Linked DNA regions of Homo sapiens: region 1 is linked to region 2. Evidence: fine-mapped expression QTL. A gene starts in region 2. The other region holds a variant in brackets. All regions are shown on one strand. Distances are from middle to middle.

What was found. PIP is the estimated chance that this variant, and not a neighbour inherited with it, causes the effect.
Region 1: its variant is the best candidate, but not a certain one, in a credible set for the expression of TMEM184A in prostate (GTEx, PIP 0.88).

Annotation. Positions count from the first base shown.
Region 1 is chr7:1,347,826-1,362,683 of GRCh38, reverse strand. No RefSeq gene overlaps it. Among named protein-coding and RNA genes, the nearest start is that of MICALL2, 100 kb to the left of the region's middle. RefSeq lists silencers at 4,793-4,842, 11,305-11,505. The variant G/C (reference allele first, on the strand shown) is at 7,250.
Region 2 is chr7:1,550,419-1,565,276 of GRCh38, reverse strand. TMEM184A (transmembrane protein 184A) reads left to right here and starts at 9,072. Exons shown (of 9, transcript NM_001097620.2): 1 at 9,072-9,163; 2 at 9,793-10,011; 3 at 14,295-14,460. The coding sequence starts at 9,793. RefSeq lists enhancers at 4,428-4,928, 4,929-5,429, 8,654-9,453, 9,590-9,884, 9,454-10,254 and silencers at 8,797-8,886, 8,927-8,996, 10,364-10,546.

The DNA.
Region 1 (14,858 bases), 200 kb after region 2:
TCACTGCTTTCGGCGTGCCGGCCAGCCTGCAGGGATCTGCTGAGCGCCCGGTGTGTCTGGCCCCATGGGAGGGAGCTGGACTGTGTTCCCAACTCCCTGAGGGTGGAGGCTCATATCTGACCACACAATCGGATGCTGGCCTGGGTCAGGGCACACACCCCTCAGCGTCCCTTGGGCGGGTCTTCACGCAGAAGCAGCCCCGGTTGGAGGGATGTGAGGCCTGAGAGGGGACTGGCACCCTGGGGCAGGACCAGCCTGGGCCCAGTGTGGGGGCTGGAGTCGCTGTGCCTGGGGCACTGGCAGAGGGGTCCCTGGCTAGAAAGTCTGTGAAGTCCCTTGGAGGGGAGACGGGGCTGAGGAAGGAAAGTGGGGGAAGGGGGAGGTGGGTTTTTTTGCTGGAAACCCCCACTCAGGGCAACCCCAGCTTGGAGGGTAGAGGATCGAATTAAATCCTGTTCATGAAATCCCACCCAGCTCTCCCACGGACCCCAATTCACTAATAATGGGGGATGGAAGGACACGGGCCTGCCCTATTTCCCATTTGATTCAAATGGGATTGAATTTTTTTAATCCTATAATAAAGTGACAATTTCCATTTTCCCAGGCAATTCATTTTCACAAAATGACCAGGGTCACGACCTGCTCTGCAAAAATCAGCACTCCGTGATTAAATCAAATCTGTAAGACGAGTTTTCCCAGAGATGCTTCCCGGCGTGGGGCCCGGTGGCCGGCTCCGGCTGTTAGACGTCAGCCAGGGGCCCTGGGGGCTGCAGGCTGCTCTCCCAAAACCCGGGCAGGTCTCAGCACCAGCCAAGCGACCTAGCTTCTCTGGCCTCAGCCTCCTCATCTCTGAAACCAGGATACTCTAGTCCCTCCCTCCTGGGGAGGGGGTGAGAATCGAATGAGACACGGCACCAAGGCCTCCCTCCATGTTGATTGTTCCACTGGTTATTCTTTTTAGAAGTGTTTATTTGTGTTTCAGAGTTGGGGTCTTGCTCTGTCACCCAGGCTGCAATGCAATGACGTGATCATGGTCCTCTGCAGCCTCCAATTCCTGGGCTCAAGCAATTCTGCCGATCCTGCCGCCTCAGCCTCCCGAGCCGCTGGGACGACAGGCAGGCGCCACCACGCCTGGCAAATTTTATTTTATTATATAGAAATGGGATCTTGCTGTGTTGTCCAGCCTGGTCTTGAACTCTGGGGCTCGAATGGTGCTCTCTCCTCAGCCTCCCAAAGTGCTGGGACTACAGGCGTGAGCTGCCATACCCAGCCTGATGATTATTTTTAATAATCTTATTATTATTATCTGAGGGACTCAGCCTTTGAGGCTGGATCTTGGGAAGCTCCTGCCCCCCTCAGGCTCCCTCCTGGGGCCCCAGGTCACCGTGACCCCCAGACTGGGGGCAGTGGATCCTCTTTGTCTCCATGGACACTACACCTAGGGACAAGCTGGGCCCCTCTCCCTGGAAATGGCCTCATGGGGACCTGCAGTCCAGCTCTGTCCCAGGGGGCCGGGGCCCTCTGCAGGCACCCAGCACTTCCAGGGCACCTGTGCAGGCCTTCCCGTAGCCAGAAATCAACATGAACCAGTGCCAGGGTGAGACTGTGGCCCTGTTGTATCAATAATTCCGATTTCCAGCACTTTGCAATCATTATTATCCCATTTGACAGATGGGGACAGTGATAGGCTCAGAGGGGCCAGGCAGCTGCCCAAGGCCAGTAAGTGGTGAAGCTGGGGTGGGGTCCAGGAAGCCTGGCCCCAGCCTCCCAGGTGGCCTGCCCAGGTTCCCTGCGAGCCTTCTCTCGTGGGGCCCCAGTGCAACCCTCAGAGGCAGGGCCCCAGAATCCCCGCTGCTCCCAGAGGGGTTGGGCCCATGCCCACTTCACAGCGGTGCCGCTGAGCCCTTGGGCGGCCCGGTGAGGGTGGCTCTGGCCTGGCCCCAGCTCTCTGCCCTTTGATGGGGGGTGCCCCAGGGGAACCTGCATTCTCCCCAACTTCCTGGTTCAGGGCCTTCCTGCTGCAGCCTCCCCACTCACCCAGCAGGTGCAGGGCTGAGGCCATGTTCACCGTGGTGTCCTGTGCCACCTTCCGGGAGGTCTCCGTCCTCTCCCCTCAGCTGGACTGAGGCTGTAGACGATTCAGAGCGATGGTGGGGAGGATCCTGGGTCCTGGATGACTTCGTGGAGCAGAGTCAGGTTGGCTGGGCTGCACTGAGTGCCCACCGCCCCCAGCACTGACCCCAGCCTCCAACACAGATGCAGACCCTTCATGCACACCTTTGGGAGTGAGCAACAGGCCATTAGAGTGTCTGGACCCGGGATGTGGGGCGTCTGGACCCAGGGTGTGGGGCGTCTGGACCTATGACGTGGGGCGTCTGGACCCGGGGCGTGGGGCATCTGTACCTAGGATGTGGGGCATCTGTACCTGGGACATGGGGCATCTGGACCCCGGGCGTGAGGTGTCTGTACCCGGGACATGGGGCATCTGGACCTGGGGTGTGGGGCGTCTGTACATCCTTAAACAGTGCTCCGTAGCCATCTGATGGACCAGCAGAGGAGAGGGGGTTCGTGGGGAGCCCCTGGGGCTCAGCAGAGGCAGAGAGGCTTGGAATGGGCTGAGGGTCTTCTCAGAAGTAGCCAGTCATGTCCTGGGGCCAGGTGGGGAGGCTACAATCCCTAGGAGAGGAGGCCCCCAAGGGGCTGGTCCTCACCCACCCTGTGCTGCCTCAGTCTCCCCACCTCCCTCCTGGTGGGCCCCACACCCACAGATCAGCTCTTCTCGGGGTGTTTTTCTAGCAGGGTGGGAGACAGGATCTGAGGAGACCTGTACCCCAGCCCTGCCCTGGCGTCATGGGCGTTGTCTCAGCTGCCCAGCCCCACCCCGGGCCACACCATGAAATCGAAATGGTGCCTCTAATGTGGGCACAGTCCAGGATCCCTGGGGGTGGCCCCTCACTCATTCCATTCAGCAAAAACTTCCTGACACCTGGCCAGGCATGGTAGCTCACGCCTGTAATCCCAGCACTTTGGGAGGCCAGGGCAGACGGATCACCTGAGGTCAGGAGTTTGAGACCAGCCTGGCCAACATGGTGAAACCCCATCTCTACTAAAAATACAAAAAAATTACCCGGGTATGGTGACACACGTTTGTAGTCTGAGCTACTTGGGAGGCTGAGATGGGAGCATCGCTTGAACCCTGGAGGTAGAGGTTGCAGAGAGCTGAGATTGCACCACTGCATCCCAGCCAGGGTGACAGAGTGAGACTTTGTCTCTCCCAAATAAAAGCAAAAACAAAAAACAAACAAAAAAAAACTTCCCGTCACCTGCCCCGAACCATGCCTTGGACTGCGCCCTAGGAGCCAGAGACAAGGTGGGGTGTGACCCAGGCCTGCCCGAGGGGCTCACGGCGGACTTCACAGTGGATGTCACAGCGGACTTCTCCCCTCAGCTCTGCAGCTCCCGGGAGAGCACATGCGGTGGGGATTTCCAGGAGAGGTGGGTTTGAGCTTTGGTGGGGCAGGGATGTGCCTGCAGGCTCAGGGAGGGGCCCTGGGGACCTTCAGGGTCCGTGTCGTCGGCCTGGGCTCAGGGTTTGATCAGTGAGGTCAGAACCACATAAAGGGGGCCCAAGAGGGCTGCCCACCCAGGCACTGCAGCCAGGGACCCCCACCCCTCTGGGAACCCCTCCTGCCCCTCTGGGAACCCCTACTGCCTCCTCCTGCCCCAGGAATCCACCATTTTCCTGCAAGGTGGGGACACAGAGTGGTCAGAGGGCTCAGCAATGTTCGCTACTGTGGTGTTTGTCTAAGCAATGGATGAATCCTGAGAGTGCCCAGGTGTTCTCCACAGGACGGGGGAGGAAACTGAGGCACAGGGGGGTGGAGTCACTGTCTCAAGGCTGCAGGGCAGAGAAGCAGAGGGTGGGGTTGAGCCTCGGCTCCCAGCACCCCCCCTCCACCCATCACCTACCTGGCTGCAGGCTCCAGGCCTGGTCTCTGCCTGTTTAACTCGGGAATGATCTGGCCTGTGGGTCACTGGCGCTGTGAGGTCTCCCGGGCCTGGGGGGACGGCGCCATCCTGTAAAGCCCCCACTTTAATTAGTGCGAAGCCGCCTGGCGTGCCGGCTGCCCTAGATGCTGGTAATTAAAGCAGGAGGGGCCGTGGCCGGAGGAGGCAGTCAGGGCGCCGCTGTCGCAGGAGGCCGACGGCTTTGGGGTGGGTGGGAGGGGCTGGGGCCACACGCATTGAGTTTTCATAAAAGAGAGCACCTGTTCATGTGACCACCTGGGAAGGTCAGCGCCCAAGTCGTGGGTTGGGGGTCTGTGTCTGGGATTCCTGGCCTCGGGCAAAACCAGCCTCTGGGGAGATGCTCCGTATGGGGTCACAGCAGGGACTGCCCGGCTCTGCCTCAGTTTCCTCCCAGGCTCAGGAAGAGGCTGCAGGAGGCTCTGGGGTACTTCTGCCTCTGCCTGTGAGGGAGTGTGGGGCCGGGTTGTAAGGACTTTGGGGTTGCACACACCTGGGCATGAGCCCTGGCTCCATGTGCCGCCTGGGGCCTCAGCGTCCTCATCTGGAAAATGGGGAGAACCCAGTCTCCCACCCGGGTTCCTATGAGGCCTCCGAGAGAAGGTGTTGCAGACGTGTGAGGCGGCAAATGGAGAGGCCCGTAGGGGAGGAAGGGCTGAGACACATCGGGCTCCACAGAGGCGGCTGTGGATCGCTGCTCCCCGTGGGCGGGCTCACGGCCCCTCCCAGTTTATAGCCTTGGGTCTCGGCCCACAGCCCATCTCTCCACTCGCCCCGTGACAGTCCCACCCAGGCCCTCCCTGGGCTCCAACCTCTTCTAAGCAGCTCCCCACCCTCCCTGGGTGTCCCGTGGCCCCTCGTGGGGCCCCCCAGTCTGCTCCTTCAGGTTCCTCCACTCCCAGCTGCAGTGCTGCCCCGTCCAGTAGACCTCCAGGGCTCCATTCCTGCAGGCACTGCATACCTACTGTGTGCTGAGGAAATGCCTACTGTGTGCTGCACGCCTGTTATGTGTTGATGACACAATTGTCGTGTGCTGAGGATTTACCTACTGTGCGCTAAAGATTTATCTACTGTGTGCTGAGGATTTACCTACTGTGCGCTAAAGATTTATCTAGTGTGTGCTGAGGATTTACCTACTGTGTGCTGAGGATTTACCTACTGTGCACTAAAGATTTATCTACTGTGTGCTGAGGAAATGCCTACTGTGCGCTAAAGATTTGTCTACTGTGTGCTGAGGATTTACCTACTGTGTGCTGAGGATTTACCTATTATGTGCTGAGGATTTACCTACTGTGTGCTGAGGATTTACCCACTATGTGCTGAGGATTTACCTACTGTGCGCTAAAGATTTATCTAGTGTGTGCTGAGGATTTACCTACTGTGTGCTGAGGATTTACCTACTATGTGCTGAGGATTTACCTACTGTGCGCTAAAGATTTATCTAGTGTGTGCTGAGGATTTACCTACTGTGTGCTGAGGATTTACCTACTATGTGCTGAGGATTCACCTACTGTGCGCTGAAGATTTATCTACTGTGTGCTGAGGATTTACCTACTGTGTGCTGAGGATTTACCTACTATGTGCTGAGGATTGACCTACTGTGTGCTAAAGATTTATCTAGTGTGTGCTGAGGATTTACCTACTGTGTGCTGCACACCTACTATGTGTTGCTGACACGATTGTCCTGAACTGAAGCTGAAGCTATGCTTACTGTGCGCTGAAGATTTACCTACTGTGTGCTGAGGACACTGCAGGGACCACGACAGACACATTCCTGTCCTCACATTGCTCACGGACAGGCAGTGACCAGATACACACATGTCCATGATAATAACGCAGGTGACAGGCACCGCAAAGGAAAATGAAGGCCAGGTGCGGTGGCTCACGCCTGTCATCCCAGCACTTGGGGAGGCTGAGGCAGGCGGATCACTTGAGGTCAGGAGTTTGAGACCAGCCTGGGCAACATAGTGAGACTAAAAAAAGTTAGCTCGGCACGGTGGCATGTGCCTGTAATCCCAGCTACTTGGGAGGCTGAGATGGGAGAAACCATTGAGCCCAGGAGGTCGAGGTTGCAGTGAGCCGAGGCCACACCACTGCACTCCAGCGTGGATGACACAGTAAGACCCTGTCAAAAAAAAAAAAAAAAAAAGGAAGGAAGGAAGGAAGAAGGAAGGAAGGAAGGAAGAAAACAAAAGAAGCAGGTAAAATTAATTTTAATAATGTGTTTTATGTAATTCAACCTATCCCAAATACTATCATTTGCCGTGGAATCACAATGTTGAGAAGTTTTACACTTTCTTTGGCACTGTGTCTTTGGGACTTTGGGATCTGGATGGGTTTCATGTTTTTGGGGCATCTTGACGTGGGCTGACGGAGAATGGCAGAGGCAGGCGGCACCTGCAGATCCCGGAGGAGCCTGGGCTCTATTCCAGGGGCACTCAGGAGCCATGGAGGGTTTGGAGCAGGAGGGACATGGTTGTGTTAACCTTTGAGAACCACCTGAGAAGCTGAGTGGAGGACGGACTTCAGGGCTGTTGAGGACAAGGCGGGAGGCAGCAAGGAGATGGCGTGAACGGTGACCCAGGTGACCACAGAGAGGAGGCGTCAGGCCTGGGTGCCTTGGTGGGGTAAGGGGTGTGGAAAGAGCAGAGTTGGGGGCTCTTGGGCGCTGGCCAGGAGTCCCTGGGAGGGTGGAGGTGACTGTCCAGCTGGGCAGGGGGCAGCAGAGGGGCAGCTCCCGATGTCGAGGGGCCCTTCTGGGGCAGCCCCTGCCCTGCCTGTCGGGCCAAACTCACAGAACCCCATAGGGGCTGGCTGACATGCAGAGGACACCGCCCAGACTGGTGTGGCTGCCGCCCCTTCCTGCTGGAATGGTGGGCGGGGCGGGCGAGGCTTCAGGGAGCGTTGTGCCAGCAGGAGGAACAGCCATGCAGGGTCACAGAGGAGCCAGTGGCTGCCACGGGCTGCAGTGGGGAGCGAGGCTGGCCAGGCCCCAGGAGCCTCGCAGGGTCCAGGGTGTCCTATCTAAGTGCAATGGTCAGTCACTGCCATGGGGCTGACTCGGGCTGACGGAATGAGATTGGTGCATAGAAAACTTCCCTCCGGCCTCGGCAGACGGATTCCAGGCTTCCCTCATGCCAGAGGGGCCGCAGGGGTGTAAGGGAAGCGGCTGGAGGTGGGTGCATGGAGCTCAGGAGGGAGCCAGGGGCCATCTGGCTGCAGG[G/C]TCAGGTGGCCAGGCTGTTAGTGGGGCCGTGGAGGGAGAAGAGGGTTTGGAGGGCATCCCTGCCAAGCCCTCCTAGGCCTGGTGTCCAGGGTGAGGGTCAGTGTGACACCGCCCATCCGCAGGCCTTCCCTCCCGCCTGCACCGCGCCCACCTCACCCACCTCACCATGCCGCAGCTAACACTGTCAGCTGGTAATTGTCCTGGTCCCTTTATCCTGCGCTTTAATAAATAATTTACCTGAATTATTCACATGGAAATTTCAACATTATTAAAAATTAACCAACTTAAATGAGTCCATGGTAAATAGCTGGGTGGCTCTTCCCAGGCTGGATGCCGAAGACCGGGACGGGGGCAGCCCCGAGGGGAGGGGCGGCAGGTGCAGGGCAGGTGAGCAGGGGGTGGGGATAGGCGGGCCTGCGGGGCCGACAGGGCCAGACCCACCCTTGGGAGCAGCCCCAAGGCAGCTTGGAGACAGAAGCCCTGTGCCCCTGACCCCTCACAGTCTGGGCAGCCTCAGGAAAGTATGCACCGCTCTGGGCCATTCGTGCAATGGGATGGCCCCCACTTGCTCAGAGGACTGTGGAGAGGGCCGGGCGAGGAGGGTAACCAGGGGCAACGTGGGATGGTGAGCAAGGAGCCTGCTTCCGTCTAGAAAGCAAATGCACTCTCCCGCCTGGCTGGGCCATGCACGGAAGTGCTTCCCGGCTCAGTGGGCATCAGCAGAGGAGCTCCCTGGGCATGGTGGGCCGTCCTGGGTATGGGGCGTCCTCAGCACCTGCAAGGCCTGGACACAGAGTGCTGAGCAAGGGGTGAGGGAGCTGATGCTTTGCTATAACCGTTTCCCAAGCATTTTCCTTAACATCTCTGCACAGAATGGCACCCCAGCGCCTGCGTCACTGAAGTCAACGTCCTGTGCAGCTTTATTCATTGTGATTAAAGGGTGGAATTGAAGGGTGCTAGGCTTTGGGGAAACATTCTAGATATCTAAACTAGTTGCTGTTTGCAAAATCGTCTTCACCAAACAGAGGTGCTGGGTGCAAATGATTTGGGGTCGGCGTGGCGCCTATGGACAGGGCAGCGGAGAAACCGTACTTGCCCGGTGAGCTGCAGAGGCCTGGGCTCAGAGAGCCTCGCCGGGAACCTGCCCCTGCCTGCACTGTCACCAACACCATGGCCATACAGGATCCCCGACAGGCCTGTGCCTCAGGCACCTCCATGTCGCAGGTGACAAAGCTTAGACACAGGAGGAAACAGATTGCCCTGCAAGGAAACGAGCCAGGGTTTGGACACAGGTGGCTCACGCCTGTAATCCCAGCACTTTGGGAGGCTGAGGCGGGCAGATCATTGGAGGTGAGTGAGAAGTTCAAAACCGGCCTGGCCAACATGGTGAAACCCCGTCTTTACTAAAAATACAAAAATTAACTGGGTGTGGTGGCGGGCACCTGTAATCTCAGCTACTCAGGAGGCTGAGGCAGGTGAATCGCTTGAACCCAGGAGGCAGGGGTTGCAATGAGGTGAGATTACACCACTGCACTCCAGCTTGGGTGACAGAGTGAGACTCTGTCTCAAAAAAAAAAAAAAAAAAAAAAGCAAAATTAAAAATGTGTAGTTGGCCAGGGACAGGGCCCGAGGTTCTGCATTTGTGACCAACTAGAGCAGAATAAGACAAGGTCTTGTTGATGGTGGCCGCTCCATGGCCCACATTTAAATCATGCCCTTTATCCCACCATATCCCGAGTCCCGAATCCAGCCCACGGCCACAGGGTGCTGTCTCTGCACACCACTCCCATCTCCTTCAGCCTGGGACCCTCAGCCTTTCTTCATCTTTTCTGCAATTAACATTTTCAAAAAGTCCAGGCAGGATATTTGTAGAATGTCCATCAATTCGGGTTTGTCTAACGTTCCTCTCGATTTCAATTTATTTTTATTATTATTTTGTTTTGAGACGGGGTCTTGCTCTGTTGCCCAGGCTGGAGTGCAGTGGCACAATCTCAGCTCACTGCCACCTCCACCTCCTGGATTCAAGCGCGTCTTCTGCCTCAGCTTCCCGAGTAGCTGGGATTACAGGCGCACACTACCATGCCCGGCTTATTTTTCTACTTTTTTTTTTTCTTTTTTTTTTTGTAGAGACGGGATTTCACCATGTTGGCCAGGCTGGTCTTGAACTCCTGACCTCAGGTGATCTGTCCACCTCGGCCTCCCAAAGTGCTGGGATGACAGGCGTGAGCCACCGCGCGCGGCTGACAGTTGATTTTTTTGGAAACCCCAGGTCTGCTGTTCAGAGCCCAGTGGGTGGGGAAGGCGGTGGGCAGGGGACATGCCGCGCGGAAGCTGCTGCGGGGTCTCCTGCCCGCCGCCGCCACCCAGGCCGAGGTGCAGACGGAGGATTTAATTGAACAGGGCAGTCACACCTCACCTGGAGCGCCTCACAACCCTTTGGGGTGGAGGAGAGGCTCCTTCACCTGCCTCGAGCCTGACTTGAAGTTAATAAAATCCCGGCCAAAGGATGACCTCGAAGCCGGTTCCCTGTCCTCCTGAAGGCCGCGGCAAGGCCCCTCATAAAAGGTTATTAAGGAAAGTAAATAACTCAGCCTGTGGGGGAGGCTTCCTGGCAGAGGCATTGGGGGCCCTGGGAGAAGGCGAGGGCCTGGACCTGTGTGCCGGTGGCCGAGAGTGATGGGGGCCTGGGCCCTGCCTGTAGCTATCCATGTAGGGAGGGGTGGGGTAGGGTGGGCGGTGGCTGCCCAGATTCCTCTTGGAAGCTCTGGTTATAAACCTGAGCATAGAATGTACAGGTTGGGGCAAACGTGGGCTCCTTTGGGGCCCTCTGGGGTTTACATCCCTCTGGGACGCAGCGGGAGCTTAGCCTGGGGAGGTCCTGGCCCTGTACTGGGGGCATGGTGTGGAGCTGGGGGCGGGGGCCTGCACCTGTGGGGCCGCTGCACTGGCTCAGCACGTCGGGCGTGCGTGTTAGGGCAGGAGGCCCGGCCGCAGCGGCTCCCCTGCTCAGGGAATGGCCTCTTCTCTCTTTGGAGTTTGAGGCCCCAAAGGCCTCAGGGGCAGCATTAGGGTCTTGTCCTAAAGGACTCTCCAGGAGCTGTGGGTTGGGATCCCGTGGGAGGCCCGTATGCTGCCCAGGGGACTGGGGACTCCCCTGTGTGACTTGCAGGGCAGAGACAAACCCTCAGTACCTTCCAAGCCTCTGTGTGCTCACCTACAGGTGGGGATGGTCAGCAGAGACGCGGGAGGGAGCAAACTGGAAAGCGCGGCACCCATCGGGGTCGGCAGCCATAGCTCATGGGACGCAGGATGGACGCCCTGAGCCTGGGCGCTGAGCCGCCATCTGCTCTGGGCCAGCTCGGTCAGCCCCGAGTCCCCCTGCAGATCTTGGCTCACCACAGCCGAGGGCCTCCAGGCCTGTCCCGAGACCACCAGGAATGGGCCCCTCCCAGCCTCCAGTGGCCGGGCAGCTTGGGTGGCCCCAACTGAGGGCCAGGGGACTCCAGCGGCTGTGGCCTTTCCCTCAGCTGCCCCTCGCCCCCACCCCCTACTAAGATTTCAAAACTTACTACAAAGCTGCAGTAATGAACACAGTGTGGTCCTGGGGTAAAGACACGCATGCAGATTAAGGGAATAAAAGAAAATTCAGAGACCAGAAATAAACACACTCGTTCACTGATTTTTTCCAACAAGGGCATTCAATGGGCGTTTTCCACAGACGGTGCTGGGACAACTGGACGTCCACAGGCAAGAGTGTGAAGGTGGACTCGGCCTCACACCACATGCAAAAATTAACTCAAAATAGGTCACAGGGGCCAGACGCAGAGGCTCACACCTGTAATCCCAGCACTTTGGGAGGCTGAGGTGGGAGGATCGCTGGAGCCCAGGAGTTTGAGGCTGCAGTGAGCTATGATCATGCCACTGCACTCCAGTCTGCATGATATGGCAAGACTCTATCTTTATAAAAAACTTAAAAATTAGCTGAACGTGGTGGCACACGCCTGTAGTTCCAGCCACTCAGGAAGCTGAAGTGGGAGGATCACCTGCGCCCGGGAAGCCTTGACTTCATGGGCTTGACTTGAGGCCCAGAGACTGAGTATCCCCAGCCCTGAGGTCAGCAAGTGGGCGGGTATGGATGAGCTATTATCACGCCACTGCACTCCAGCCTGGGTGATACAGTGAGACCCTGTGTAAAAAAAAAAAAAAAAAGAAAAGAAAAAGATCACAGACCTAAACGTAAGAGCTGAAGCTATAAAGCTCTGAAAACAAAACACAGGAGTAAATCTTTGTGATCTTGGGTTAGACCAAGCCTTCCTAGATATGATATGAAAGTCACGAGAGAAAAAAGAAAAACAGAGATACACTGGACTTCATCAAAATTAGAAGGCTTTGTGCTTCAAAGGACATCGTCAAGAAAGTGAAAAAAACCACCTGCAAAACGGGAGAACATTTTTGCAAAACGTATTTCTGATAAGACACTTATGTCTAAAATATATAAAGAACTATTGTAACTCAATAACAAAGAAACACATAGCCCGATTTTTGAAATAAGCAAAGGATTTGAGGAGACACTTCTCCAAAGATGATATAAAAATGGCCAATAAGCACAGGAAGATACTCACCATCAGCCATCACGAAAACACAAATTAAAATGAGATGGCCCCTCATACCCACTAGGACGGTTAAAATAAAGCAGACAGATATTGACAAGTATTGGTGAGGAGGAGAAATTGGAAAGTCAGAACTCCAGCACACTGCTGGTAGGCAGGGAAAAAGGTTGCATCCACTTTGACAAACAGTTTGGGAGTTTTTTCTTTTTCTTTTCTTCTTTCTTTTTGTTTATTTTGAGATTGGGTCTTGCTGTTGCCCAGGCTGGAATGCAGTGGTACAATCACAGATCACTGCAGCCTTGAACTCCTGGACTCAAGCGATCCTCCCATGTTAGCCTCTTGAGGACCTGAGACCACAGATGTGCACCACCATGCCCGGCTAATTTTATTTTTTTATTCTTTTATTTTTTTGAGACAGAGTCTCAGTCTGTCACCCAGGCTGGAGTGCAGTAGCACGATCTCGGCTCACTGCAACCTCTGCCTCCCAGGTTCAAGCAATTCTCCTGTCTCAGCCTCCCGAGTAGCTGGGATTACAGGTGTGCACCACCATGCCCAGCTAATTTTTGTGTTTTTAGTAGAGACAGGGTTTTACCATGTTGGCCAGGCTGGTCTCGAACTCCTGACCTTAGGTGATCCAACTGCCTCAGCCTCCCAAAGTGCTGGGATGATTTTTTAAATTTTCAGTAGAGACACAGTCTTGCTATGTTGCCCAGGCTGGTCTTGAACTCCTGGGCTCAAGCGATCTTCCCACCTCAGCCTCCCAAAGTACTGGGATGACAGTCGTGAGCCACCACCCCCAGCTGGTTTGGGAGATTTTAAAAATGTTCAATGTGGAATTACCATAAGACCCAACGATCTCACTCCCACGTATCTACCCAGGAAAAACGAAGACATTACTCCAGCTCTGTTTTGATTAAAAATAATACTTCTTATTATAAAAAGAAAAAAATAAAGACACACATCCACATAAAAGCCTGTGCACACATGTTCGTAGAAGTATTATTGTCTCCAAACGAGGTGAAGGTGAAAGGAAAAAAAACATCTGTTGTGCTGTAGGGCCGGATGCCTCGTGATAACCCCAAGGGCTTGGAGCACCTCACTGACCCCCGCCCGGGGCTGGGCAGAATGGGGCAGGAATCACAGCCAGGGCAGTGGCCCCCGAGTCCCCTGATGCCACGCACAGACCACCAGGTGCTGTATCCGCGTCTCCCAACAGACCTGCAAGCTCAGGATCAGGATTCCATTGTTCAGATGGAGAAACTGAGGCTCAAAGAGGGGAGGGGGCTCGTCCAAGGCAGTCAGGAGAGGAGCCAGGGCTGGGACCAGCCTGGTCGGCCCCCAGGTCCCCACTCATTCCGTGGACAGCCAGCATGCAGGATGAGGGGCAGGTGTTTATCACGGAGACAGGCCTCCCCAGCTGGCCTCGGCCGGCGTACCACCTCTCCATGGGCCCAGTGACAGCCGTGGCTGGTGGGTCTCAGTCTCCCCACCTGTAACATGGGAGAGTGGGACTGGAGGACCCTGGAGCCCCTTTGGGGTCCAAGAATGGCAGGAAGGACCAGAGGCCACGGAAAGCCCTACCCAGCCTCTTCTGGGGGCCCAGCAGGCTCAGCCACAGCTGCCCCAGCTCCACCCACCCACTTGCTGATCTCGGGGCTGGAGATAGTCTTGGGCCTCAACTTTCCCACCTATAAAATGAGAACAGCAGCAATTGTGTTTACCTGGCTTCGTGGCGTGGCTCGCGAAGCCAGCACCAGCTCAGCGCTCCTGAGACGCTCTTATTCTCTTCCAGGTCTCCCAGAGCTAGAGGTTTTCCCGGCAGCTCCAAGCGAGGCTTCCTGAGAGTTCGAGGCGGTGCAGAGAGACCACCCTGGGGAACCGGCCATCTCCAGAAACCGGGGAACCATCCGTGGTGTGGGCCCAGCAAGGCCCCCTTCCCAGCGTGGCTGACTTCGCCTCTGAATTAATCTGGATTTTTAAGTGCAATTAAAGAGGTAATCGGGGTCAGAGCGCTTTTAAAACACAGTTTAGCACAAAATCCTAATGCAGGAATTACACCAGTGGAGATTGTCAATACAATGGATTCCCACCAAGGGCACTAAACGAGGGTGCACCCGGGCTGCGCGCCGGGAGGGGCTGGGCTAATTCAGCAGGGCCTCGCCGAGGCAGGCCGGGAGACAGAGCTGCACGGAGGCCTCTGCATCCTGCTCATTACCGGGGAGCCTGGAACACGCTTCAGAGAATTCATTAGGGAAAGAAAACGGTAAAATTTGAAGTTATTTGTAAATCTGACGGGGAAGCCATGCATCACTTCTCAGAAGGAAGTGTGTCGATTCCAGACGGAGCTGATGGTGGGTGGGGGCGGGGTGAGGGGCTCTGGGAGGCAGAGTCTGCAGGCCAGCAGGACCCCCGCTTAGGGCCATGGCGGAGCCTCCCCGAGTCCCAGCCTCTATCTGCATTGCAGTGGGTTGGTGGGTGGTAGCCCTGTTCCCATGGAGCTCACAGAACCAGACGGGGCAGGAGCACAGAGAGGGCAGGCCCTTGCCCACCGTCACACAGCAAGGGCACAGCCAGCCGGGAGCCCAGCTCCCCGCAAGGTCTGCAGGGAGGGCAGGGGCTCAGCAGCAGGTTCACCTTGTGCTGGAGACTCCAGCTGGGGCAGCCCTGCCTGCACGCGGAGGCAGGAGGTTGGGGGAAGAATCGGGAGGCCCGGCTCCCTCTTCTCCTTCCCTCCTGGGGAAGCTGAGAAATCTCCCCTGCTGGAAGCCCCCACCCCACCTTCCTGTGTCCCCCGCCCCAATTCCCATGCACAGACTTCTGTCCTGCCTCCAGTCCTGGTCCAGCTGTCCCTGCCTCCTTCTCTACCCCTGCACGGGTTCCTGCCCCGGCTCTGAGCCTCGGCCACCTTCCTGGGCTCACTTCAGATTTCCCCGAGATACCAGCCGTTGGGTTCCCATTGCACCTGTTCCCTTGGGCTCTTCCCGCGCCGGCGATGACCC
Region 2 (14,858 bases):
GGGGCCCGCTGCCCCCACCAGTGTCTGCGTTTGGGGGGGCCACCAGGGGATACTGAGGCACACCCATCCCCGGCAGATAGGACTCCCTGCCCAGGGCTTCCACCCAACCTCCCTCGGGCAGGCTGGCATCGGGGTCTCCAGCCCCTCATGAAATCCTACGTTGAGTCCCATTTGGTGTCTGCCTCTTTGGGGACCTGAGCCCACAGTTTTAAGGGCCTTGAAGGAGTCAATGGGAGGAAAAGGGGAGGAGCATCTGCACAGGAGCGAGGCCCCAGCGGGTAGCATGTGTGTCGGGACGGCTGCGGGGACTCGGCCACCACCAGAGGAAGGGGATCTGTCGGGACGGCTTCGGGGACTCAGGATGACTGCCAGAGGAAGGGGACCTGTCGGGGGGCGGCTCAGGATCACCGCCAGAGGAAGGGGACCTGTCGGGGGGCAGCTTGCCGAGGGCTCAGCCTTGAACCGGGGGCCAGGGTGTGACATCAACAGGTTAATATCTTAGAGCGGGTGCCCGGGCAGAAGCCTCGCCATTCGGTATTAGCCCATAATTACTCACACTTGTCTAAAAGTCAGATGTTTTCGCTGGGTGTGGCGGCTCATGCTGGGAATCCCATCTACTCGGGAGCCTGAGACGGGGAGGATGGCCTGAGCCTGGGAGTTTGAGCCCAGCTTGGGCAACAGAGCAAGACCCCATCTAAATACATACATGCCTGTCTAAATACATGCATGCCTGTGTAAATACATGCCTGTGTAAATACATGCCTGTCTAAATACATGCCTGTCTAAATACATACATGCCTGTCTAAATACATGCCTGTCTAAACACATACATGCCTGTCTACACACATACATGCCTGTCTACATACATACATGACTGTCTACATACATACATGCCTGTCTACATACATACATGCCTGTCTAAATACATACATGCCTGTCTAAATACATGCCTGTCTCCACCTATAAAAACCGGACAGTTTTGTGGAAGAGCCACAGCTTCTCTCATGTAACCAGCGGGGACACGGCGTGGACGGGGCTCCAGTGTGAGTCCGGATGCGGGTCTGCGGCTTGTGCTTCCTGACCTGTCCCTTAGCGATAACAGTAGACCTGCTCACTGGCCGTGGGATCACCCTTCCCACCAGGGCTGCCCATTCAATCCTCACCCCGTGAGTGGCTCCCCGCATTTTCCTTACACGGAAGCAGGCCGCACCCCAGAGAGTGGGGAAGCTGGAATCACCATGCAGGGTGCCCTGGAGCCCCCATCCCCCAGTCAGGGGCCCCCGTGGTTCTCCTTCATGGCTTCCTTTTTTTTGAGACGGAGTCTCACTCTGTCGCCCAGGCTGGAGTGCCGTGACGGGATCTCAGCTCACTACAACCTCTGCCTCCTGGGTTCAAGTGATTCTTCTGCCTCAGCCTCCTGAGTAGCTGGGATTACAGGCGCACACCACCATGCCTGGCTAATTTTCCTATTTTTAGTAGAGATGCGGTTTCACCATGTTGTTCAGGTTGGTCTCGAACTCCTGACCTCAGGTGATCCGCCTGTCTCAGCCCCCCAAAGTGCTGAGATTACATACTTGAGCCACTGTGCCCGGCCACGGCTTCCTTTTCTTTCACGCCGCAACTGCACCAGGGCAATGGTTCTTGCCAAGGCCAAGGTTGGCTTTGCCTCCACGCCTGCTGGTCTGGTGCGGCACTGTTTTGGTGCGGGACTGTTTTCAGGAGAGCATTGGCTCCTGAGAGCCAGGCCTGGGAGGCCTGTCCTGTCTAATTGGGCCCTCATGACTGCCCTTCAAAGGTAAGTCATGAAGGCCGGACACAGTGGCTCACACCTGTAATCCCAGCACTTTGGGAGGCTGAGGCAGGCAGATCACCTGAGGCCAGGAGTTCGAGACCAGCCTGGCCAACATGGCGAAACCCCGTCTCTACTAAAAGTACAAAAAGCCAGGCTTGGAGGCATGTGCCTGTAATCTCAGCACTTTGGAAGTCTGCGGCAAGCAGATTGCTTGAGCCCAGGAGTTCGAGACCAGCCTCGGCAACATGGGGAAACCCCATCTCTATATCTAAAAAAGCGTATAAAGAAAAAAATTAATTTCGTAAAAAAAATAAAGGTAGGTTGTGGAGAAGCTAAGGCTCAGGAGGGGCGGGCAGGTTGCCTGGAGGCTCCTGGGATGTCCACACAGCTCTGCCACATGTCATGTGCAGGGTCCCACGGCCACCCGCCTTGAAGGCGATGCCGAAACGGGCATATAATTGAGACTGGCCCCCCAGTGCCCTCCCGAGGTCCTCCTTCACAGCCGCCTGGCAGCCGGTAACAACACAGACCAAGGCTAAGCACCTCCGCCATCCAGCTAGCTCCTGTGCTGTAAATCAGATGGCGGCAGCTGTGGAAGGGCCCCGGCCCTCTGCTTTCTGGGCCCGCTCCCAGCCTCATCACTCCTGAGCAGCCCCTGCTCCAGCGAGGAGCTCTGTGGAGCCAGCTGTGGTTGCAGGCAGGGCCATCTGCTTTGGGGATTGCTGCTCCTTTAGGAGGATGAGCTGCCTGTGGTTTTTACCCAGAGATCCAGCTGGAATCGCAGCTCCCAGACACTCACGGCTCACTGTGAGTGATGAACACGGGGCCCATGGCAGCCGCTGCGGCCGAGACAGTGGACAGTGTTCACTCTTTAAGGCGATGCCCTTGCGCCCACACAGTGCGACGTCCAGCACTGTTTTCTGCTCAGCTGCGAGGGAATCTCCCCAAGCCTCCCCACCACCCCCTTTTCCTAAGTGGACCTGGGGGCCTTGGAGGTCAAGAAGAGCCAGTGGGGGCCCTGTTCTTGGCTGTCATTTCAAGCGGCTTCTCCAGGGGGTTGACAGAGCCCTGGGCCCACGTGGACGGATGATGACAAATGACCTGCGGAGGGAGACGGTGGCACGTGGGGACCAGCGGAGTGAGCTGGCCTCGGCTATCTTGTTGAGTGCCTGGGAATGGAATTGGAACAGGAGGCCCGGTAAGTGACTGGAAGACTGGAATGAGGGCCTGACCGATGGGAATGAACCAGAGACAGCGGAATGATGTGCAGATGACTGAGGGAGGCACCCTGCCACGCTGGTTTTATAGTTTGGCATCGCAGCGAGAAAAACAACAAACCCCGTCTTGTGTGTGGTGAGGGGTGGCTCCGGCAGAGAGTGAGGATGCGTGAATTCCAAAACAACTGTGAGAAGACCAAAGGCGCCAGAGCTCTGGGGATTCAGATTCGCTTTCAGAAATAATGCCGGGTGCGAGGCTCACGCCTGTAATCCCAACGCTTTGGGAGGCCGAGGCGGGAGGATGGTCTGAGCCAGGGAGGCAGAGGTTGCAGTGAACCCAGATCATGCCACTGTACTCCAGGCTGGGTGACACAGCGAGACCCTGTCTCCAAAAAAAAAAAAAAAAAGAAGAAGCAAGAAAGAAGCACACATCTGGGGATGTTTTGATGAAGACTCTGCTCTCGTGGGCCCCAGAACACCCCGAAATAGGCTGCACGAAGCCGTGAGCCCCGGCACCTGAAGGCGCGAAGCTGGGCTGGGAGTTGCTCACTGGCAAGGTGGGTGTCAGCCTGAGGAGGGCAGAGGTCAGCTGCCCCTAGCTGGGCATGATTTAGGACACAGGACGGGAGGGGGCACTGGGTCTGGAAGGAAAGGCAGGGGAGGGAGGGAGGGGTCTCCAAGGAAAGGGAAGCCAGCAGTGCTGTTCCTAAGCAGGATTCCATGGAACTCGCAGACAGGACTTGGGACACGCACCTGCCCTGCCCGTCTGACCTCACCCCGCCCACCCAGGAGGGGAAGCGCCGTGGAGGCCACTTCACAGGAGGGAAGATCAGGGTCCAGGGCCATGCTTGACGCCCCCCACCCAAGGTTTAGCCCAGGAAGGGGGAACAAACCGCAGCTCCAACCCTGCCCCCCACCCATTAGCCAGGGGCCTGCAGCTCCTGACTCAGCTTCCCCCATCAAACAGGGGCTCGTCCTGCCCCACCCGGGTGGGAGACCCAACCTTCCAGGCCCACAGGAGCTCGTGCGTGCGTCTCACGTTCCAGTCACCCGGGTAGCAGGCGTGCGTGGGCAGGGGCAGAGCTTGGTGGCGATCCGTGTCCCGACACCCTCAGGCTCCCGAATGGGACTTTTCAGGGGTGAGGGGGCCAAAGAAGGGGAGGCAGGGGCTGCGTCACTCGTGAAGGGGCATCGGGACCCCAGCCCACTTGTGGTCCCACGTCTGAAATCCACCGGACAGGGAGATTGGTCCAGGCTCACACCCGCTGGGATGGCAGGAGGCAGGGGTGGCACGTGGACAGATGTGGGTCCCAAAATCCGGGCAGGGGGGAAGGTGGAGGGTGTGGTCCGTGCCAGCTGTACCCAGGCAGGTAGGGCTGGCTGGGTGGGGAGGGGGTGGGGCTGGGAGGAGTTCCTGGGTCTGGGGAGAGGCCACTGCTCAGGAGCAATCATCTCTCAGGGACCCAGGCTGCCCGCCGCTGTGAGGAGGCGGCAGCAGAGGCCAGGAGGCCGGGGGCCGAGCTTCAGGCCCACCCCGCCTTGGCCCCCCCCTCAGGCCCAGAGACCTGCAGCCAACCTGCCTGACAGGCTGAGCGCCACCAGGGAGGTGAGCTGCGTGGGTGTGGGAGTGCGAGAGTGTGTGTGTGGGGGAAGGGGGTGCATACCAGAGGGGTATGGTGTCCAGGCTGAGCCCCTGCACTTCAATGGGGTGGGGGGCTCCTCGAAAAAAAAAACATACCTTGAAATTCGGAGAATCACAGTCCGCCAACCCCTAAGCCTCACCGCCACCTCAGAGGCTGGGCCCCAGGACGGCACCTGGACACCAAACAGGGTCTCCAGCCAGCCTGGCAAGTCCAGGCCAGACGAGCACCCCCCATCCTGGCTCCAGATGAAAGGGTGCCCCCGACCCGTACACGCCCAGGGCTGGCAGCTCCCTCAGGTGAAGGCAAGTATAGGCAGGCCCTGGGTGACTTTCTGGGGATGGGGGCAACAGAGGGACCAGGGACAGGAGCAGGGAGGTGGGGGCTTGGCCCCGGAGGACAGGACGGGAGACCTATGGGAGGAAGAGAGCAGATCCTTGGGACGGCCCCACCCTGGGATCTGGGGCTGATGGGCTCAGGCAGAACAGAATTGCTCGAGAGTCAGAAGCTGAGGCAAGCGCCCCCCTATGACCTGCCAGGTCGCCAGGTCAGCTGAGACAGTGGAGCTGAGTCCCAGGGCCTGGCCAGGCTGGCTCTCCCATGCAGCAGCCTACGTCCCTAGAAGGGCAGATGACAGGGAGGCCAACCTGAGGCCCTGGCCCGGCCTCCCTGACCTGCCGCATAGCTCTTGCCGGTGGAGACAGGCCCAGGCTGGCATAGGCTCTGCCTGAGGTCACAGACACCTCACACAGCCAGAGCCAGGCCCCAGCTTGTGGCATGTGGTCCAGGGCCTGCTCCTCCTGGCTGTGGGGGCTGCTCCCCGGCCCCAGTGAGGAGGGGGCATGTGGGTCACCAGGAGGCCATGCTGCCTGCCCGCCCCACGCGGCTCTCAGGAGGCCGTGCCCGTGGACAGGAGCCGGGGGAATCCCAGAAGCAGAGCCGGGAGGATGTGGAGCCCCATCCCTGTCACCCCCTGCTCACACCCGGGGCTGCTGCCTTGGTGAACTGCTGGCCAGGGCCCCCAGGGGAGGGCCGCGGGACCTGGGAAGCCGGGTGTCTGAGATGGGTGCCCACCGGTCACCTCATCCCCCTAGTGTGCAGCTCAGCCTGGGACATCAAATGAGCCAGCCCTGAGGAGGCGGCTCCTGGGCGCCCCGAGTTCCACCCAGCAGTGAAGGAGGCAGGCAGGGGGGTACACCATGCCTGTCCGCATCTGCAGAGAGACGGGCAGGCAGGGGGTCGGGGTGGGCACTAGCAGGGCAGCCGGCCTGGAACCAGGCAACAGCTCATGGGCCCTCAGCCGGGTTTCTCATGAGAGCAGGAGGAGGTGGCTGTGCCAGGGCCAGGGTGTGGGACTGGCTGGGCGGCTTCTCAGCCTCCCCACAGCTCTGGGCACCTGGACGCAGTGAACAATGGTCAGAGGGCCCCGTCGCCTGGATCTGGGCAGACAGGTCTGTCCTGCAATGGGCTTGGTCAGTGTCCCGCCCCCGCCAGAAAAATCAGGCCCAGCCGGCCCTGCCGCCTCCTGTGACCGGGCGCAGAGGCTGTGACACCAGCACCGGGTGAGGCCTCGATCAGCCGGCGAGCCCTGTGAGCAGGTGGCAGAGCGGTCAACCTCCCGACTGCCCCTCCCTGGGGACCAGGCCCTGCTCCTGACATCCCCAGACCAGTACACTTGGTCCACGGTTCCCGAGCTGGCGCATCTGGCTCAGCCGGGACAGCTGTGGGCTGAGGAGATCAGCAGGCCTCCCTGTCCAGTGCCCAGCTGGCCCTGTGAGAAAACCCCACCTTTTTCCACAGAGGATCTGCCTCTGGCGGAAGACAGAGCTTTGGAGGTCCCTCAGTCTGTGTCCGGGGCCCAAGCCCTGAGCCTGCCCGAAGCCAGAGCCCTCCCAGAAGCCTGGCTCTGCTGGCTCCAGCCAAAACGGTCCTGCTGACATCTAGCCACAGTGCCTCCTGCTGTCTGCACAGCCATTCCCACCGTCAGCCCAGGGAGGGGCCCGAGGCTTCATCCTGTGCTGGGGGCTGGACGCAAATCAAGCAGGGGCTGGGGCCTCAGTTTCCCTGCCTGTAGCATGAGCGAGTTGGATGAGGGGATTCCCGGTCCCTTCCAGCTCTGCGCATGCCCAGGCACCAAAGTCTTCACCCTTCAAACGGGCCCCCAGCCATCGTCACTTCATAGTTGTCCGTGACGGTGATCCCGACACAGCCAGAGGGCGACATCCACACGCGCTGAGCCGACTGCCTGGGGCTCTGCAGGCCGGGTGGGAGGCCGGCAGGAGTACCTGTGGCTGCAGTGGGAATGCAGCTGGATGGAAGTTGGGGACCGCCTTCCAGCACCCCTGCCTGGCCAAAGGGAGACCTTAGCCCACAGGGTCACCGCCTCAGCAGGACAGCCCCCACCCCGCAAGCCCTGTGCCCCGAGCATGGACAGGGCACAGCTCTAGGCTCTGGCAGCTCCTGCAGAGGGAGGACCAGCAGCAAACACAGACAGGTGGACAGGGAGTCACACACACAGTGAGGAGGGTGATGGGACAGCGGGGATGGTCTCTCCAGAGGTGACGCCTGAGGCTGCAGGACAGAGTCACCCGGGAGCAGGGTCGGTTGGTCCAGAAGGTCCCTGCCTGGGGAGCAGGCAGGCTCCAGGAGGGCCCAGCCAGGGTGTGCATGCTGTGGCTCTGGGCCCGGGCCCGGGTGGGCGCTGATGGGGAGGTTAGGCAAGGCGGGCCTGAGAGCTGGGCACGACTTCCTGAGCTTGTTCCCCACCTGGGAGCCTCCCTGGAGGGACAGTGTCAGTGGAGGAGTTGGGAAAAGCAGGCAGGGTGTCCCAGGGAAGGATGGGCCTCAGCCCGGGCCCCTCACGGACCCCTCAAGGATGCTGGACGCGTTGATGCGCCTCTCGTTCCCATCTCTAAAAGGGGAACAGGCCGGACGTGGTGGCTCAAACCTGTAATCCCAGCACTTTGGGAGGCTGAGGCGGGCAGATCACCTGAGGTCAGGAGTTCAAGCCCAGCCTGGCCAACGTGGTGAAACCCCGTCTTTACTAAAAATACAAAAATTAGCTAGGTGTGGTGGTGGGCGCCTGTAATCCCAGCTACTCGGGAGGCTGAGGCAGGAGAATCACTTGAACCCAGGAGGCGGAGGTTGCAGTGAGCCGAGATCGCGCCATTGTACTCCAGCCTGGCGACAGAGCGAGGCTCCGTCTCAAAAAATAAATTAATTAAAAATAAAAGGGGAACAGTGGCTCCAGTCATTCCAGCCTCAACCCCTTGAGCCCTGTTGCTCAGGGCTGTGGGAGGGTAGGAGATATGAAGGACAAGGAGTGTGTGGATCCGTTGCGGGCATGGAGCGGGACTTGGTAATGGTGGCCCCAGCGGCATGAGCCCAAGCGTAACCAGAACAGGACAAGAGGTGGGCTGAGGGCCCACATCCCTCTCCCAGGAGCCGGGGTGAGTGAGTTTTTTCTCCACAGGGGCCTCTGCATGGGGGTGACAGGGACCCTCAGGGCCCCGCAACCCCTTGCCAGACCCCAAAGGGTCCAGGGACTGGGCTGTCACTCCCCCTCTCCTGCCTTGATCCACAAAAACCAGAAATATTTCCTTTTTTTTTTTTTTTTTTTTTTGGACACAGAGTCTCCCTCTGTCCCCAGGCTGGAGTGCAGTGGTGTGATCTCAGCTTACTGCAACCTCCGCCTTCTGAGTTCAAGCGATTCTCCTGTCTCAGCCTCTTGAGTATCTGGAATTACAGGTGCACGCTGCCACACCTAGCTAATTTTTGCGTATTTCGTAGAGACGGCGTTTCACCATGTTGGCCAGGCTGGTCTCGAACTCCTGACCTCAAGTGATCCACCCACCTTGGCCTCCCAAAGTGTGGGGATGACAGGCGTGAGCCACCACGCCCGGCCCAGAAAACAAATGTTTTCAACTCATCTCTTGGGGCGTGGATTTTTTTTTTAATTCAGATGAAATTCACATAACATCAATTTACCCAGGTTTAAGTGAACGATTCGGTGGCGGTAAGTATATCCACAGTGCTGTGTGCCTGCCGCCTCTACCTCATTTCAGGACTCCTGTCACCCCCCAGAGAAACCCTGTACCATTAGCTCTCCACCCCTCCTCCTGCAGCCCGGCCCTCCTTGGCCTGCCGCAGACCTCTCCCACGTGTCCCCACCAGGTGGCAGCTGCCTGGCCGTCTGGCATAGGCAGGTGAGGGCGCCAGGCGGCCAGCAGGTTCCTGGGAGCCAGCTGCCACCCAGCAAACAACCGGGAGGATAGGGTGTCAGCCGTGGGAGGGGACAGGAGGGGACGGGCCTGCAGCCTGGGGCCCAGGTGGGCCACTGGGGACGTGAGGCACTGGCCGCCCCGCCCCAGCCTGGCACAGCCCTTCAGATCCTGGCCTTGCCGCACCCACAGTGGGGCCTCCAGTTGGGGCCACGTGGCCATGAGAATGACCAGCTAGGCTTCCCTGGAGGCCAGGCCTCCCTGGACTGGGCCAGGTGCTTCCTGCCAGCAAAGGTAGAGCTGGGCCCTGTGACCGCAGACCAGAGGGAGAGGAGGAGGCTGGACTGGGCTGCGAGTGTGGGAGAGGGTGGACTCAGGGCCCCAGCAGGTTAGTGGGAGATGGAACAGGCACCCAGGGCTGCCAAGAACCCCAGCAAAGCCGGGCTCCCAGGTGGGTGGACAGGTCCCAGAGCCAGTGAGGGCCGGCTCCTCCCATGAGGGTGGCTGCACACCCCCTCCTGCCGGGGCAGGCAGTGCTGGTCTGCGCCCGCTCCCCAGCCCTCCCGGGCAGGCAGGGCGGCAGGGGTTCCCCCTCTTCTGCCCCACTGGAAGACGGTCTTTGTCCCCTAAGAAGCAGGCTCCCTGCAAGCCTGAGACTCGGAGTTGGAAGCTGGTTTTACAAGGGGGAATTGAGGTGGGACCCTCAGGTCGCAGGTGGTTGATGGGTGAGCTTCGATGGCTGAGCTCGGAGCAGGGAGGGAGCCGGGCCTGGCGCTGGTGTCCGTGTGGGGGGTGCGGCCTGGTGGGTGGCTCAGCCTCAGCTCCCGTCTCACTGTCTCCTCCCTCCCCCGCTGCTTCCTGCTGCCGGGAGCCAGTACCTTTGCCCTCACTCCTCCCGGTGTGTGTCCTCCCTCCCTCTGCAGATGAGTAATGTCTCAGGGATCCTGGAGACAGCCGGCGTCCCCCTGGTGTCAGCGAACTGGCCGCAGCCCAGCCCCCCACCGGCTGTGCCAGCTGGGCCGCAGATGGACCACATGGGGAACAGCTCCCAGGGGGCCCCCTGGCTCTTCCTCACCTCCGCACTGGCCCGAGGCGTCTCGGGGATCTTCGTGTGGACTGCCCTGGTGCTCACCTGCCACCAGGTAAGCCCTTCCGCCCCCGAGCCTCCTTCAGGACCTTGGTCTCCACAGGACGTGGCCGTGGCTCAGCCCGGTCCCCCTGGGTGCCGCTGCTATAGACGCTGTCAGAAGTGGGATCGGCCAGGGCACGGGGGAGGGGATGAGCTTCCCCAGGATGTGGCATGTGGGAGCTGGGCCTGAAAATGGGGAGATCTCTGCCAGGCTGAGGGCAGAGCGCCCACCGGGCACCCCTGGCTATTTCACAGGCTCGTCACTCGGCTCACTGAGGTCTGCAGTGTGGTCCCATTTCACAGACAAGAAGACTGAGTCTCAGAGAGACCAGAGGTCTTTCCCAGGCTCACATAGCTGGAAAGGGGAAGGGGCCTTCTCCTTCCAGAGGCGTGACACCCTGGAGAAGGCTGGTGGGAGGTTGGCAGGGGGTTGGACTTTGCTCTGTAGGGAGCTGGGGAGCAAAGGTCACAGCTTGTTAGAGGGACCGGGACTCCTGTGCAGGAGATGGGCGAGAAGCAACTTCCCCAAGCCCGAAGCCACACACAGCCCCCGACCCGGAGCAGTCCCCAGGTGGGAACAGAACAGCCCCCAGGTAGAGAAGCGGCCAGGCGCTGTGGCAAGGAAGGGCCAGGCAGGGGCAAGGAGGAAGTGGTGCCCGAGGGCAGGGGCTGGGCAGAGAGGGCAGGGAGTCAGGGACAGGACCCTCCTGAGAGACTCAGATACACAGAGAGGCCAGGGCGGTGTGCGCAGGGGTGGGGTGGGAGTGCGTGTGTAGGCCCGCGAGGGCCACACGGCTGCAGGGATTTGTCCAGAGCCCTTGACCCCAGTGCGGTGAGGTGGCTTTCAGGGGGTGCTGGGAGCCCAGGAAGGCTGTGGAGGGCTGGGCTGAGGGCAGAGCTGCTTCCCGGGTGCACGGGGCACTGGTGTAGGGAATGGATCTGTAGGTGAGCTGGGGCAGGGGGCCATCAGGAGACTGGCAGGCAGGGACACCGGTGGCCACAAGTCTCCGAGGGAGCATCTCAGTGACAGTTTATTAACTGCTTATTAGCCGGGCATGGGGGCCTGCACTGTTAGTCCCAGCTACTTGGGAGGCTGAGATGGGAGGATCGCTTGAGCCCAGTTCAAGGTTGCAGTGAGCTGTGAACAGATAACCAGAACCCACGGTAGACGTGTATGAGTGTGGCCTGGAGTGTGCAGAGCCGCGGAGGCAGTGCCGAGGCAGGCCCTTCCTGTAAGGCCATCAGAGAGGGCTTCCCGGAGGAGGCCGTCTTTCCGCTGTAATCCTGGGAACCGGCTGTGTGTGCGCGGCTGTAGTGTGGCTTTAGCTTCATGGGGCCTCGCAGTCAAGACAGGGCTCATGGAGACCCCTTGGGCTGGAGTTCAGGCCCTGTCCCACCCCTGAGCCCACCGCCAGAGTCACCCTTGAGTGAGGAGTCCCAGGCAGGACACAGAGTGGCTGGATCCCCCTCACTTTATACATGGGAGGACCGAGGCCGGAGAGGACAGTGGCTTGTCAAGGTCACCCAGCCAGGCAGCGCCAGCCCCGGGAGAGGTCTCCTGATGGCTGGTCATGCCGTCCCTCCCAGGGACCATCGGGGAGCGTGTGACTGATAAGAGTCTGTTCCTGCCTCCAACCTCCCCCAACTCCCTGAGCTGCACCCCAAGCGGCCAGGTGCACGTAGCCTCTGCTCGCCCACCGCCACGCATGCACCTCCTCCAGAAGGCCTTCCCCAGGAGCCCCTGTGCGCCCAGCTCCCAGGCTCGGCTGACCCTGTCTCAAAGACCCTGTAGTTGAGTTGTATCCTCACAGAAAACATGGAAAATCGGTCAGGCGTGGTGTCTCACACCTGTAATCCCAGCATTGTGGGAGGCCAAGGCGGGTGGATCACCCGAGGTCAAGAGTTTGAGACCAGCCTGGCCAACATGGGGAAACTCTGTCTCTACTAAAAATACAAAAATTAGCCGGGCATGGTGGTGCGCGCCTATAATCCCAGCTACTCAGGAGGCTGAGGCAGGAGAATCACTTGAACCCGGGAGGCGGAGGTTGCAGTGAGTTGAGATTGCGCCACTGCACCCCAGCCTGGGCAACAGAGCAAGACTCCGTCTCAATAAAAAAAATAATAATTAAAAATTAAAAAAAATAAAAACGTGGAAAATCTAGAAAGGTTTAAAGGCAAACACTACTATAATCACCCATACTTTTTCCCAGGCTTTCTTTTTTTTTAGGCAGGATCTCACTCTGTGACCCAGGCTGCAGTCCGGTGGCACAATCAGTGCTCACTGCAGCCTCCGCTTCCCGGATTTAAGCCATCCTCCCACCTCAGCCTCCCGAGTAGCTGGGACTGCAGGCGCCCGCCACCACGCCTGGCTAATTTTTGTATTTTTTAGTAGAGATGGAGTTCGCCCTGTTGACCAGGCCGGTCTCGAACTCCTGAGCTCAGGTAATCCGCCCACCTTGGCCTCCCAAAGTGCTAAGATTACAGGCGTGGGCCACCGTGCCTGGCCCCTAGGGAGGGACAAATTCTTAGGAATCAAAGGGTGCACATCCTTTGGATGCCCCCACAGCAAAAGCCAATGTGCCTTCTGAGAGTCTGCCCAGCCCAGGACCGGGACGTGTCCCCTCTCCGTCCCCCGGGTTGGACACTTAGCTGGGCTCTAGAAACGCCTGCTGAATGAAGGAATGAGTGAGCGTTCCCATTCCCAGGCTAAGAACAAACAGGACCCTCACTCATGCCCAAGGAACTTATTCAGAAAAAAAAAAAAAAAAAACCTATTGTACAACATGGTGACTGTTATAAATAACAATGTATTCTATGCTTGAAAATTGCCAAGAGAGTACATTTTACATGTCCTCCCCGCAAAGAAATGCTAAGTATGGGAGATAATGGAGACGTTAATGGGTTTGACTCAGCCATTCCCCACGAACACACATATCAGACATCGCGCTGCACACTGTAAATGCATACAATTTTGATTTGCCAATTTAAAAAATAAATTTTAGGCCAGGTGCAGTGGCTCATGACTATAGTCCCAGCACTTTGGGAGACGGAGGCAGGAGGATCCCTTGAGCCTAGGACTTTGAGACCAGCCTGGGCAACACAGTGAGACCCTGTCTGTACAAAAAATACAAAAATTAGCCAGGCAAGGTGGTGCACACCTGTAGTCCCAATACTCAGCAGGCTGAGGTAGGCAGATCACTCGAGCCCGGGAGTTCAAGGCTGCAGTGAGCCATGATTGTACCACTGCACTCCAGTCTGGGCGACAGAGCGAGACCCTGTCTCAAAAAAAACCTGGGCAAGAGAGCGAGACCATGTTTCTCAAAAAAATATTTTTTTTTTTTTGAGAAAGGGTCTCGCTCTGTCGCCCAGGCTGGAGTGCAGTGGCGCAATCTTGGTTCACCGCAACCTCCACCTCCCAGGCTCAAGCGATTCTCCTGCCTCAGCCTCTCTAGTAGCTGGGATTACAGGCGCGCGCCACCATGCCTGGCTAATTTTTGTGTATTTAGTAGAGACTGTGTTTCACCATGTTGGCCAGGCTGGTCTTGAACTCCTGACCTCAAATGATCCACCCACCTCGGCCTCCCAAAGTGCTGGGATTATAGGTGTGAGCCACTGCACCCGGCCATAAAAAGTCAATTATTCAAATGTGTATTATTTTTAGTTGTAACCAGAAATATGTATTTAACATATACATTCATACTTATATGTACTTCTATAGTAAATACGTATAAAAGTATGTATCTAATTACAATAGGCAAACAATTTATTTTCTCTAATTGTAATAAGGATGCCCATTGTAGAAAACTAGAAAATGCAAACATAGAAGGTGCCTGGTGGCCTGCACCCACCCCCACCTCCTTCCCGGCTCACCTGGGCTTGTGCAGGGGTACCAGGCGGACCCGGCTCTCACCCGAACCCTCCTGCGCCCACCCCCACCTCCTTCCCGGCTCACCTGGGCTTGTGCAGGGGTACCAGGCGGACCTGGCTCTCACCCGAACCCTCCTGCGCCCACCCCCACCTCCTTCCCGGCTCACCTGGGCTGGTGCAGGGGTACCGGGTGGACCCGGCTCTCACGCGAACCCTCCTGCGCCCAGGGCGGGCCCGGCTCTCACGCGAACCCTCCTGCGCCCACCCCCACCTCCTTCCCGGCTCACCTGGGCTTGTGCAGGGGTACCGGGTGGACCTGGCTCTCACCCAAACCCTCCTGCACCCACCCCCACCTCCTTCCCGGCTCACCTGGGCTGGTCCAGGGGTACCAGGCGGGCCCGGCTCTCATGCGACCCCTCCTGCGCCCAGATCTATCTGCACCTGCGCTCCTACACCGTGCCACAGGAGCAACGTTACATCATCCGCCTGCTCCTCATCGTGCCCATCTACGCCTTCGACTCCTGGCTCAGCCTCCTCCTCCTCGGAGACCACCAGTACTACGTCTACTTCGACTCTGTGCGGGACTGCTACGAAGGTGGGCGCCAGGCTGCGTCAGGTCGGGGGAGCGGAGGGAGAGACTCCCCGGGGCCTGCGTGCACGCACACTCTTCCATGGCCAGTCCCCAGGGCACCCCACTCTCCCGGCCCGTCAGAGGGGCTGCCAGGATAGTCAGGGTTAGCGGCGCTGGCAGGCCTGGAACACACGACTGACCCCACAGCCTCCGTGAGAGGGGCTCGGTGGACCTGCCCTGGCCTGGGGTGAAAGCAGGGCCCTGATGGAGCACCCTGACCCTCTCAGGCTGCCCCGCTGGGGATGGGGTCCATCAGGAGCCTCTTGCTGTGTGGCCTGCTGGGCTCAGCCCCTCCCGAGCCTCCTCCTGCCCTGGTGAGATGGGCGCCATGGGGTCCCGGTGCAGCTCAGGGCTCACAGCCG